Linked DNA regions of Homo sapiens. The protein of the gene in region 2 purifies or fractionates together with the protein of the main gene of each other region. This does not show direct contact. Each region holds a gene or a part of one and is shown on either strand. Other genes may lie near its edges.

The links.
Region 1: the proteins of GNPTG (region 2) and C1QTNF9 purify together in Homo sapiens (co-immunoprecipitation; one large-scale study listed by IntAct). This does not show direct contact.
Region 3: the proteins of GNPTG (region 2) and CHST9 purify together in Homo sapiens (co-immunoprecipitation; one large-scale study listed by IntAct). This does not show direct contact.

What each region holds. Positions count from the first base shown.
Region 1 is NC_000013.11:24,319,552-24,323,154, forward strand, and holds the end of C1QTNF9 (complement C1q and tumor necrosis factor-related protein 9A precursor), read left to right. Parts: intron 1-1,444; coding exon 1,445-2,217; 3' UTR 2,218-2,980; downstream 2,981-3,603. UniProt on the Homo sapiens protein: Probable adipokine. Activates AMPK, AKT, and p44/42 MAPK signaling pathways.
Region 2 is NC_000016.10:1,354,838-1,358,488, forward strand, and holds part of GNPTG (N-acetylglucosamine-1-phosphotransferase subunit gamma precursor), read left to right. Parts: intron 1-3,651. UniProt on the Homo sapiens protein: Non-catalytic subunit of the N-acetylglucosamine-1-phosphotransferase complex, an enzyme that catalyzes the formation of mannose 6-phosphate (M6P) markers on high mannose type oligosaccharides in the Golgi apparatus.
Region 3 is NC_000018.10:27,178,670-27,182,320, reverse strand, and holds part of CHST9 (carbohydrate sulfotransferase 9), read left to right. Parts: intron 1-3,651. UniProt on the Homo sapiens protein: Catalyzes the transfer of sulfate to position 4 of non-reducing N-acetylgalactosamine (GalNAc) residues in both N-glycans and O-glycans.

The DNA.
Region 1 (3,603 bases), on a different chromosome or scaffold from region 2:
AAAACAAGCAGACAAACAAAACCCAGAAAAACAAAAAAACATGTAAACCATATTTGTTTAGCTTGCGGGAGGGAGGCTGAATTTGGCCTGTGGCTGTAGTTTGTTGAACCTTGAACCTTGCAGTGGATGAGCACTGAGGAGTGAGACTGAGTTTTTGACTTGGTGCATCTGGCAGCACTGCATGGAGGAGGTGGAACTAGAACTGGTCCCTGATGGGTCGGGATGTAGTCGTAGTGGCAAACTTGTGTAATCTTCACTTTGTGCTTTTCATGTACTGACTCACTGAATGCAATATCCCCAGACGCTAGGTAGTTTTATTACCCTAGTTCCATATGTGAGGGAACAGAGGCACGAGGCTCACTAGCTCATCTGACGTCCTGTGTGCATATGGGGACAGAATGGAAACCTGGCATTTAACCTCAGAGTCCACACTTGCAACCACGGCTCTTTGGTATGGGTGGGGGTGCAAGGAAGCAGCAAGGTTTCTGTAGATGATGAATTGCCGGTGGGATAGGTGGGTTGGGGCTGGGGTTGGGCAGGAGAGGGCAATGCCTCGATGCAGGCTTTATTTTATGTTCACTCCAGGGAGGAGGTTTTTAGAGGATGTCACGACTAGGGTTGAGTGTCAGTTAATCTACCTGTCTCTGCTCTGAAGAGTGCTTTCTGTCATGGATTGACATTATTTAATGGCCAGCATGGTAGACTTAGATGGTAGGGTTGTAATTTCTAACGTGAGCCCTGACACTAATTTAGTAGACGGTAGTCAAAAGGTGTGTTGGGATGTGTGTGTGTCCATGTGCACACACGTGTGTAATTGGAGTAATTGATTTTCATTTATTTTTATTTTTTTTGAGACAGAATCTCACTCTGTTGCCCAGGCTGCAGTGCAGTGGTTTGATCACGGATCACTGCAGCCTCAGCCTCCTGGGCTCAAGCCATCCTCCCACCTCAGCCTCCTGAGTATCTGGAACTACAGTTGTGCACCACCGCGCCTGGCTAATTTTTGTATTTTTTGCAGAGATAAGGTTTGGCCATGTTGCCTAGGCTGATCTTGAATTCCTGGACTCAAGTAGTCTGCCCACCTTGGCCTCCCAAAGTGCTAGGATTACAGGCATGAGCCACTGAGCTGGGCTGGAGTAATTGAATTTTATTTTCTTATTTTTCTTTTTCTTTTTTTTTTTTAGAGTCAGGGTATTGCTATGTTGGCCAGGTTGGTCTTGAACTCTTGGCCTCAGGCAGTCCTCCTGCCGCGGTCTCCCAAGGTGCTAGGATTACAGGTGTGAGCCACTGCACCCAGATGGAGTAATTGAATTTTAAACTCTGGGCATATACTGAACCTGTGCACTACTTTGTTTCATTTGTGAGCTCAATTATAGAAAAACCAAAGTTGTTCACAAGGGAATCTTTCACAAGCTATCTCTTTATTTGCTCTTTCTCTATTTAGGAGCAGATGGAAAAGTTGAAGCAAAAGGCATCAAAGGTGATCAAGGCTCAAGAGGATCCCCAGGAAAACATGGCCCCAAGGGGCTTGCAGGGCCCATGGGAGAGAAGGGCCTCCGAGGAGAGACTGGGCCTCAGGGGCAGAAGGGGAATAAGGGTGACGTGGGTCCCACTGGTCCTGAGGGGCCAAGGGGCAACATTGGGCCTTTGGGCCCAACTGGTTTACCGGGCCCCATGGGCCCTATTGGAAAGCCTGGTCCCAAAGGAGAAGCTGGACCCACGGGGCCCCAGGGTGAGCCAGGAGTCCGGGGAATAAGAGGCTGGAAAGGAGATCGAGGAGAGAAAGGGAAAATCGGTGAGACTCTAGTCTTGCCAAAAAGTGCTTTCACTGTGGGGCTCACGGTGCTGAGCAAGTTTCCTTCTTCAGATATGCCCATTAAATTTGATAAGATCCTGTATAACGAATTCAACCATTATGATACAGCAGCGGGGAAATTCACGTGCCACATTGCTGGGGTCTATTACTTCACCTACCACATCACTGTTTTCTCCAGAAATGTTCAGGTGTCTTTGGTCAAAAATGGAGTAAAAATACTGCACACCAAAGATGCTTACATGAGCTCTGAGGACCAGGCCTCTGGCGGCATTGTCCTGCAGCTGAAGCTCGGGGATGAGGTGTGGCTGCAGGTGACAGGAGGAGAGAGGTTCAATGGCTTGTTTGCTGATGAGGACGATGACACAACTTTCACAGGGTTCCTTCTGTTCAGCAGCCCGTGACAGAGGAGAGTTTAAAAATCCGCCACACCATCCATCAGAATCAGCTTGGGATGAACTTATTCAGATGGTTTTACTTTATTAATTCCTCCAATTATTACAATAATCATAAAAAGGTGAAAATGGAAAAGTTATTCCCAAAACTGATTCTGTGTAACTTACTATTTTTCCAGGAGTAAATATTTAAAATAGCTGCATGGTTTATTCTAATTTATTTCACATTTCTTATTCCTATTATCTGAAGAATCCCTCGTCTGTGCGTTTCTTGTGGGAAGAGTGTTTTAATATCATTTTAGTGCTCTGAGGAGTCATATGAAGATGTATCCCTCATCTGTGTTTCTGAGGACATTAAGGGGAAATTAGAGGGAAATGTTTATTCAATTTAGTACTAGCAACAGCTTTAAGCTGGTGATGCTGTCATACTCCAGAAAGCTGTAGACACTGCTCATTTTGTCTTTTAAAAAAATTTTATTTTATTTTAAGTTCTGGGATACATATGCAAAACATGCATGTTTGTTACATAGGTAAACATGTGCTGTGGTGGTTTGCTGTATCTATCAACCCATCACCTAGGTATTAAGCCCTGCATGCATTAGCTATTTGTCCTGGTGCTCTCCCTCCCACTTTGCTCATTTTCTAACCTAGGTTTTAATCACCATTTTACCCAACAAATCATTGTTCGATCATTATTTGCCAGACTTGAATCTCTATGTGTTTTCTAGGACTGCTCTAATAAAGTACACAAACTGGGAGTCTTTAAACAACAGAAATGGACTTTCTCACAGTTCTGTAGGCTGGAAGTTTGAGATCACCGTAGCAGCAGGGCCATTCTCCCTCCAAAGGGGATACAGGAGGATGCAGCCTTGCTGCTTCCAGCTTCTGGCAGCTGGTGGCAGCATCACTCCAGTCCCCGCCTCCATCTTCAGGTGGCTGTCCTCCTTCTGTATCAGCCAAATTTTCCTCTTCTTACAAGGACAGCTTCCCTAATCTACTATGACCCATCTTAATCATATCTGCAGCTCCTTATTTTCAAATAAGGTCACATGTACAGGTTAGGACTTCAGCATCTCTTTTGGGAGACACAGTTCAACACAAAACAATCTGCCCTCTGATTCCCAAAGTTGATTTCCTTCACCTGTGCAAAATACATTTTCGCCCCATCTCAACATTTCCAAAAGTCTTAACACTTTCCGCGTCGAGCTTTCCTGAGCCCCTCTGGTGCAGCCACCTGCCTGTCCCATACACCCCGCCCACCATGGAGTCCAGAGGGAAATGAGCCAGCAGCCCCAAACCAGACACCAAGGCGCCCAAAGCCACCACCAAGGCCAAGGTACTTCTGGCAGACGATGGGAAAGCCCGCTTGACCAAGCCCTCGAAGAAGGAGGCCCC
Region 2 (3,651 bases):
GTGGGGTCAGGCGTGGATAGTCCCCCGCGTCTGTAGGGCTGGGCGTGGATACTCCCCCGCGTCTGTAGGGCCGGGCGTGGATTGTCTCCCACGTCTGTGGGGTGGGGCCGGGCGTGGAAAGTCCCCCGCGTCTGTGGGGTGGGGCCTGGATACTCCCCCGCATCTGCGGGGTGGGGCGTGGATCGTCTCCCGCATGTGCGGGGTCGGGTGTGGATGGTCTGCCGCGTCTGCGGGGTCGGGTGTGGATGGTCTCCCGCGTCTGCGGGGTCGGGTGTGGATGGTCTCCCGCCTCTGCGGGGTCGGGTGTGGATGGTCTCCCGCGTCTGTGGGGTCGGGTGTGGATCGTCTCCCGCGTCTGTGGGGTCGGGTGTGGATCCTCTCCTGCGTCTGTGGGGTCGGGTGTGGATATTCTACTTGTTTTTTCTGTCTTTGATGTAGCGCTCCTTCAACATCAACGTGTGAGGCGGATTGTGTGCAGTGGGTAGGAGAGTGTGGTCTGTGGAATGAGCTGAGCAGAAAGATAATCAGGCTGAGAAACTCAGGGGCGTGGTGATTGTGGCCTAGGGCTCAGAAGGTCCCCGCAGAAGAGTGTCTGCCAAGGAGAAGGAAGGGGTGGGCTTGCCAGGGCCGAGGCTGGTGGGGCTGGGCTGGGCAGTGGGCAGCTCCATGGCCTCCACCAGATGAGTCGGGAGCCTCGTCCCTTGACAGCAGGAGGAGCAGAGGTTGGTAGGTCTGTGATTTGGAGACAGTGTCCCGCTGTGGCATGGAGAGGGAATGGGGCACGGTCAGTGTGGTGGTCCTGCCAGCGCCCAGCAGAGTCCAGCATAGCCCAGCACACTGTCCAGGAGGGAGCTCTGCCTCGGTGGCGGTGGGAGGGAGCGGCCAGCTGGGCAGGACTCTGGGGCCTTGGCAGGGTCCTGGATCTGGGGAGGGGGCGGGGGAGGAGTAGAGTGGCCCCGGGATCCTGGCTAGAGAAGCCATGGCAAGTGCGGCTCCCAGCATGTGAGTTGCAGGGGTCAGGCTGGGAGCTTGCTTTCGGCTGGGGCCGGGCTGGGTCTGCCAGGCAGTCCCTGGTGCTTGGAGAGGGTCACGGTGGGCACAGGACTCACCAGGGGGTGCGTGAGGCCGGAGGGTGAGGGTGAGGTCCCCGGTGAAGTTCTTGGTGGCGTGTGGGGGTTGTGGAGGTTGGGAGGGTACTGGGACCAGGTGTGGGGCCGGGCCAGGGAGCAGCGTGGGAGGGAGGACCACCCTTGAGAAGGGATTGTCACCAAGAGACGCAGCCCTAGGGGGAGTGCTGCCCACCGAAGCCTGACCGGGGCAGAGGGGAAACGGAGTCCAGGCTCAGCCAAGCTGATGGGCCTTGAGCTGTGGCCTCGGGTGCAGGGACAGCTGGCAGTAAGGCCACCTGGGCCCGCGGGAGCCAAGGGCACCGGCGAGTGTCCTGGCCATGCAGGCCGTGAACACGGAGCCTGCAGGGGACGTGCGGGTGAAGCAGGAGCAGAGGAGAAGCCTCCCGGCAGGGGTGGTGGCATTTGGGGGTGGTGGTATTTGGGGGTAGAGACTCCCGCTCAGGTATGGCTGTGTCTGGCCCAAGAGGCGTGGAGGGGCCAGCCCCCACCTGTCTCAGGAGGACAGGCTGCTGAAACCTGAGGGCCAGGCGGAGGGGAGGGGCCGTGGCCGGGGTTCTGGTGTGGGCCAGCAGCAGAGGACCTGGGGTACTGGGCACTGCCAGTTGGGGGCTTGTGGTACCATCCCCTGCGGGAGGCTGCACCTCAGCCAGTAGGAGTCCACTGAAGCTGTGGACAGCACCCAGGCAGAGGCCTCCTCCCAGCTGGGGAGCCAGGCCAGGCCCCGCTGCCCTCACACAGTCCTGTTTAGACGGATGGCCCTGCAGGTGCAGAGCTAAGCCCGGCGCCCACGCCCCTCCTGGGGTGTCTCCAAGCAGTGTCTGCCTGGGGCAAGCCTGGGAACGTGAGTTCCCAGGACACAGGAGCTTGACCAGCCACCCTCCCAGCGGGAGTGTGAGAGCGGGAATCTGCGGGCGGGGGTCTGCGGGCGGGAGTGTGCGGGCGAGAGTGTGCGGGCGGGGGTCTGCGGGCGGGAGTGTGCGGGTGGCGGTCTGCGGGCAGGAGTCTGAGTGGCAGATGGGTGAGGGACACATCAGGGTCTCTGGGATGGCTCCAAAGGCTTCCCTATGTGCCTGTTGGGCAGGGCCCTAGGGCCAGACTGGAGGGACCAAGCCCAAGCACCCCAGGCTGTGGGACAGCAGGTGTGACAGGGCTGAGGTAGAGCCCCCAGCGGTCAGGCTGGGAGGACAGTGGGTGAGCCTGGGAGTAGGGGCCACCCAGATGGTATTTGACAAGGAAGGACCAGGACCTTTCTATATCCACAGCCCCTGTCCCCTGAGCAGGGCAGCCTGGCCATCTTGGTCTCCATCTGTCTTGGGAGGGGACAGCCCCAGGGGTGAGTGGAATGTCAGGGAACAGAAGGCCAGGCCGGGCCAGCACCCCAGAGGTCTCAGTGGCATTAGCCTCTGCCCTCCGGGGGCGGGGGCCAGGCTGAGGGTGGCCCCAGTGTGGCATCTGGCTCCTGGGCTGGCCAGATTCCCAGGGAACAGTCACCCAGCACCTCGTGTGTATTTCGACTTTATTATTATTATTATTATTATTATTAGAGCCGAGTGTCGCTGTGTCGCCCAGGCTGGAGTGCTGTGTCGCCCAGGCTGGAGTGCAGTGGCGCGATCTCGGCTCAGTGCCAGCTCCGCCTCCCGGGTTCACGCCATTCTCCTGCCTCAGCCTCCTGAGTAGCTGGGACTACAGGCGCCCGCCACCATGCCCGGCTAATTTTTTGTGTTTTTAACAGAGACGGGGTTTCACCGTGTTAGCCAGGACGGTCTCGATCTCCTGACCTCGTGATCTGCCCGCCTCGGCCTCCCACAGTGCTGGGATGACAGTCATGAGCCACCGCGCCTGGCCTCGACTTTATTATTAATACGGTAAAACTACAGAGAGTTTGAAACATCAGTCTGGGGCGTCCTCCTCTAACCAGTGCACTTGCTGCTGCAGCGCAGGCCCTTCAGGGGACGGGGATGGGGGCCAGTCCCCTCCCTGCCTCCACGGCCCAAGCCCCAGCCTTCCCCACAGTCCTGGAGGATGGCCCGTGGCTGACAGTCTCGGTGGGCGCTGTGTTAAGGTGGCGTCCCCAGCCAGGTCCCGACTCCCCAGCTTAAAGAACAGGGTGGCTGCTGTGGCTTGACTCACGAGTTGCCACTGGCCTTGATGTGTACACGCCCTTGCTCTAGCACTGCCTGGGGCTGGCCTGGCTGGAGGGTAGGGACGCTGCACGCCTTCCCTCTTCCCCCAGGCGCTGGTGACACTGCCCTGCAACCGTCAGCACCATCATCTCCACAACTTGCTCTGTCCCCTTCAAACCCTGACTCCCAGCTGCCCCGCTCCCCCAGCCCCGGCACCCACCATTCTGCTGTCTCTGAACTTGGCTATTCATAGACGTCACATAGGTGACTCATAACTGTGTGCGACCTTTTGTGTCTGACCAACTCCTCTTGGCACAGTGTCCCCAAGGTCCCCCAGGCTGGAGGCTCTCAGTGCTTCCTTTTTATATGGCTGAGGACTGTTCCACTGCAAGGACAGA
Region 3 (3,651 bases), on a different chromosome or scaffold from region 2:
TGGACAGAATAAACCCAAACTACAGATAATTTTGAAAGTAAAGTTGCCTTTAAAAATATAGTCTAATTAAAACCTTTGGATATTACATAAGAACATGTTACATCTTATTTTTCTGTATCCTAAAAATGAATTATTGAGGAGAAACAGTTTCACCATGTATAGTAAATACTCTGAATTATTCATGTTAATGAGAAAAATAGAGGCAAAGATAATGTAAAATCATGGTTATTTAAAAAGTCATTTGTGTTTGTCTTTGGAATGTATTGCATGTTTGGTTTAAAAAAGATTTTCATTGTTATTGTGGGCAAGTTGCCTTTCTAATTATTTTCTTGTGTTTAGGTTAATTTTTAAATGAGTTTTCATGCCTCAAACACGAAAACCCATTTGTGGGGAGGTGGGGAAGATGGGCAGACTGCCCAGAAATGAGCTGGGTGGCAGAAGTGAGCAAACCTGGTATGAAAACTTTGCAGGAAATCATATGTAATTCAAAGAAAGATAAGCAAGACTTGATTGTATGCCTGTTTAATGAATATGTGTTAAGGATTAGATATGTTCCCAGCAAAAATAAAAGTCTTATAGTCAAAGTTTGAGAAATTCAATCCCACTTTACATGTAACAGAGGTGGTTAATATATTTTAAGAAGTGATAATAGGTTGCTCCTGAAAATCAAATAAGAATGTGTTAATGTATGCATCTTACTATTAATACACTGCATTTTTAAGTGTTTTCCTAAAGCATATGTATGTCTTTGACGTTAAATGGCATTCCTAGGCCTTATATATTAATATGTCCTTTCCAAGAGAAGGAATAGCAAGAAGCCATCTAAATAAGGGGTTTGGTCCATTTCATCTCTGTACCTATGCTCCAAATCAAAAACACATTTCATCAAAGAGAACCTCTCAATTATTGTTACAGTGGACCAAGCTAGATAAAATAGTTGAAGTTCAGCAAGACTGCCAATTTAACAGATTTCTATTGTGTTTTTCAAAAGCTCTAGGGCAAAATGGGTTGTAGATGAGTTACTTCAGCAAGAAGCTGATTCATACCATAGCATGAAATATCTTGTTTATAGTCAGTTTTTAGTTGGACATAGATTTTGTTGAATTGTTAGTTCTGTGGACTGTTAGAATTTAGAAAACCTCTGTGTGGAAGGTTAGAACTGCCAAAAATATATGATGGGAAAAGCAGATAAGATCATTTTTATTTCAAATATTCACAGCCAAACTGTAACTTTTATGGAAGTAAGGAGAATGGTGATAGAAAAGTAGATGTACCCTTCAGAATAGAGACTATGTTCTCATCATAAATGTGCTCACTACATAAAGTGTAGGGATGCTTTTTTTTTAAGGAAACATTTTCATTTTTTGTAAGGCATGACATTTTTTAAAGACTTGACTAGACTGAATATTTTAAAAGAAATATTGTGGTTGGAAATATAATTGAGACCCACAGGATAAATTTTATATACACTTATTAAAGGAATCCGTTTCTTCTTATCAATGCCTAAGTCTTAGGATCAAGATTATGCATTTTTTAATAGAGCTGGAAAGAATCTTAAAAGTAATTTATTCCTGTGTCCTCATTTTACAGTTGCAGAAATAATGGGGACCTACAGTGATCATGATGAACTGCTAAAGGCCACACTGGTAGTGGCAGAGCAGAAACTAGAAACCTGGTCTCCTGACTCCTCATCCAGCTACCTCTTAGAAAGTTAGATTAGTTAGGTAGGGGAGTTAACTCTTTCTGGCCATCACGGTATCAACTAATATGTGATAGTCACAGAATGAAGCAGTACAGAGGTAAATGTAGAAGGCTTGTGATTTGCTGTCTTCTTTCATGCATTGAGTAGTCATCGTGGACCAGACTGTGATCCTTGACCCTCTCAGACTCTGTCCTCTTTTTTAAAAACAAATATTTTGTTACCCCCTTATTATCCTCAAAAGTCATTTATAAATAATTACAGAATATAGTTGTAATTTTTAAAAACTAATAAAATAAAAGTAATGTGTATTTCACTACTAACGCTCAGGGATAACTTCACTAGACACATAGTAAAGTCAGCGCTTGTATGAATATATGATGAATAAATTTGAATTTAAGACAAATAAAACATTAGAAGACATCCCGTGCAAGAAGTGCACGAAAGTGAAAGAATGAGGGTAGACTTAAACTAGTGTTGAGATACTAACAACCCAGACTTATTTGTAGATGAAAACCGGAAGAAGAAAGTTAATGGTATAGGGAAAATTTGCCAAGTCAAATGTAGACTCTTGGAGTGGAGAAAATTTTAAAGTATGATATTTTGCAAATGAGAGAGTAAATACCATTGATATACTTCCACTAAAATCCCAAAAGTACTTTCTGGAACATTTCCATGTTGTTAACTAATGTTAATTCTATTTCAAGAGATGAAGGTTACTCACCGTATTGTCAATAAGTAAAATACTTGAAAATAAAAATTACTGATTTGGTGCTGAGTTGGTCTTAAGTTTAATTTCTATCAACATTATAGTCTATCAGTTCTAGAGTTAGAAGATAGAGTACATGAAATAACTAAACTATTTTTGTAAATTGCTCGGCTTTTGGTGGGAATGTAAATAAAATTCTTAATTGTAATTATGTACCAGGTTATACAGTTTGATATGCATAACATTTAGCTAAATAGGACACATAAACTTTATATGGAATATTTTTAGAAAAACTCTTCATTAAATTGGGCTGCCTCCCCCATATACACTAAAAGCCAATAGCACACCACCACTACCACCACCAATAATTTGTGACAACCCTGAACATACCCAGTCCTACCTAAAATATTCTGTAGGTGTGTCACTTGCCATTATGAGAGCCATAGAGCTAGATAACCAAGATTTTTATGTAGGCGTGGATTATTTTTCATGCCCCTACCTATCTATCTTTACTTCTTTTAAGTAGGACCATCCCATTTGTTCACTGATACACTGGCTCTAATGGATCAGAACCACAGACTTCACTGCCCTCAAGCAGGTCATGTTCTAATCTTTTTCTGTCGCTGTCACCTTGGTAAAAATTCACTTCTTCTGGTCCTTATTTCTCTTAGGAATCTATCTTTTTTGGGTGACAATAAGTGGTGACAAACTGAAGTACATGCTGGGTAATATTTTAGTGGTCTTAGGCCTTAACTGCTTAAATGTATATCTCCATAAAGCACTGAAAGTTTTCATATATATATATATAGAGAGAGAGAGAGAGAGAGAGAGAGACATTATCACACACATGTATGCATGTACGTATATGTATATATGTGCATATTTATGAAAGCATATATGTATACACACATAATTTTAGGCTTTGAAAAAACAGGAAAGGAGGTATTATTAAGGCTTATATTTTTAATGCCCTTGAAACATGCTTATGCAAAAAAGAACTGCACTAGTCCAATACTGGAATTTATACCACAAAACTACGTGCTATGAAGTATGCTTATAGTAAAAGCCCAAAAGCTATTTCCAACCCAAATAAACTGCTGTATTAGAATTTTGTTATATTGCTTGTGGTAGATGAATCCTGTGCAGCATATTAGAAGTTGAGGGTAAGGGGTGTGGTCAGTTTTGTCTGTTTCAGAGGTATTTAACCTGTGCACTCTTGACATCCTAAAAGCACACCAACATC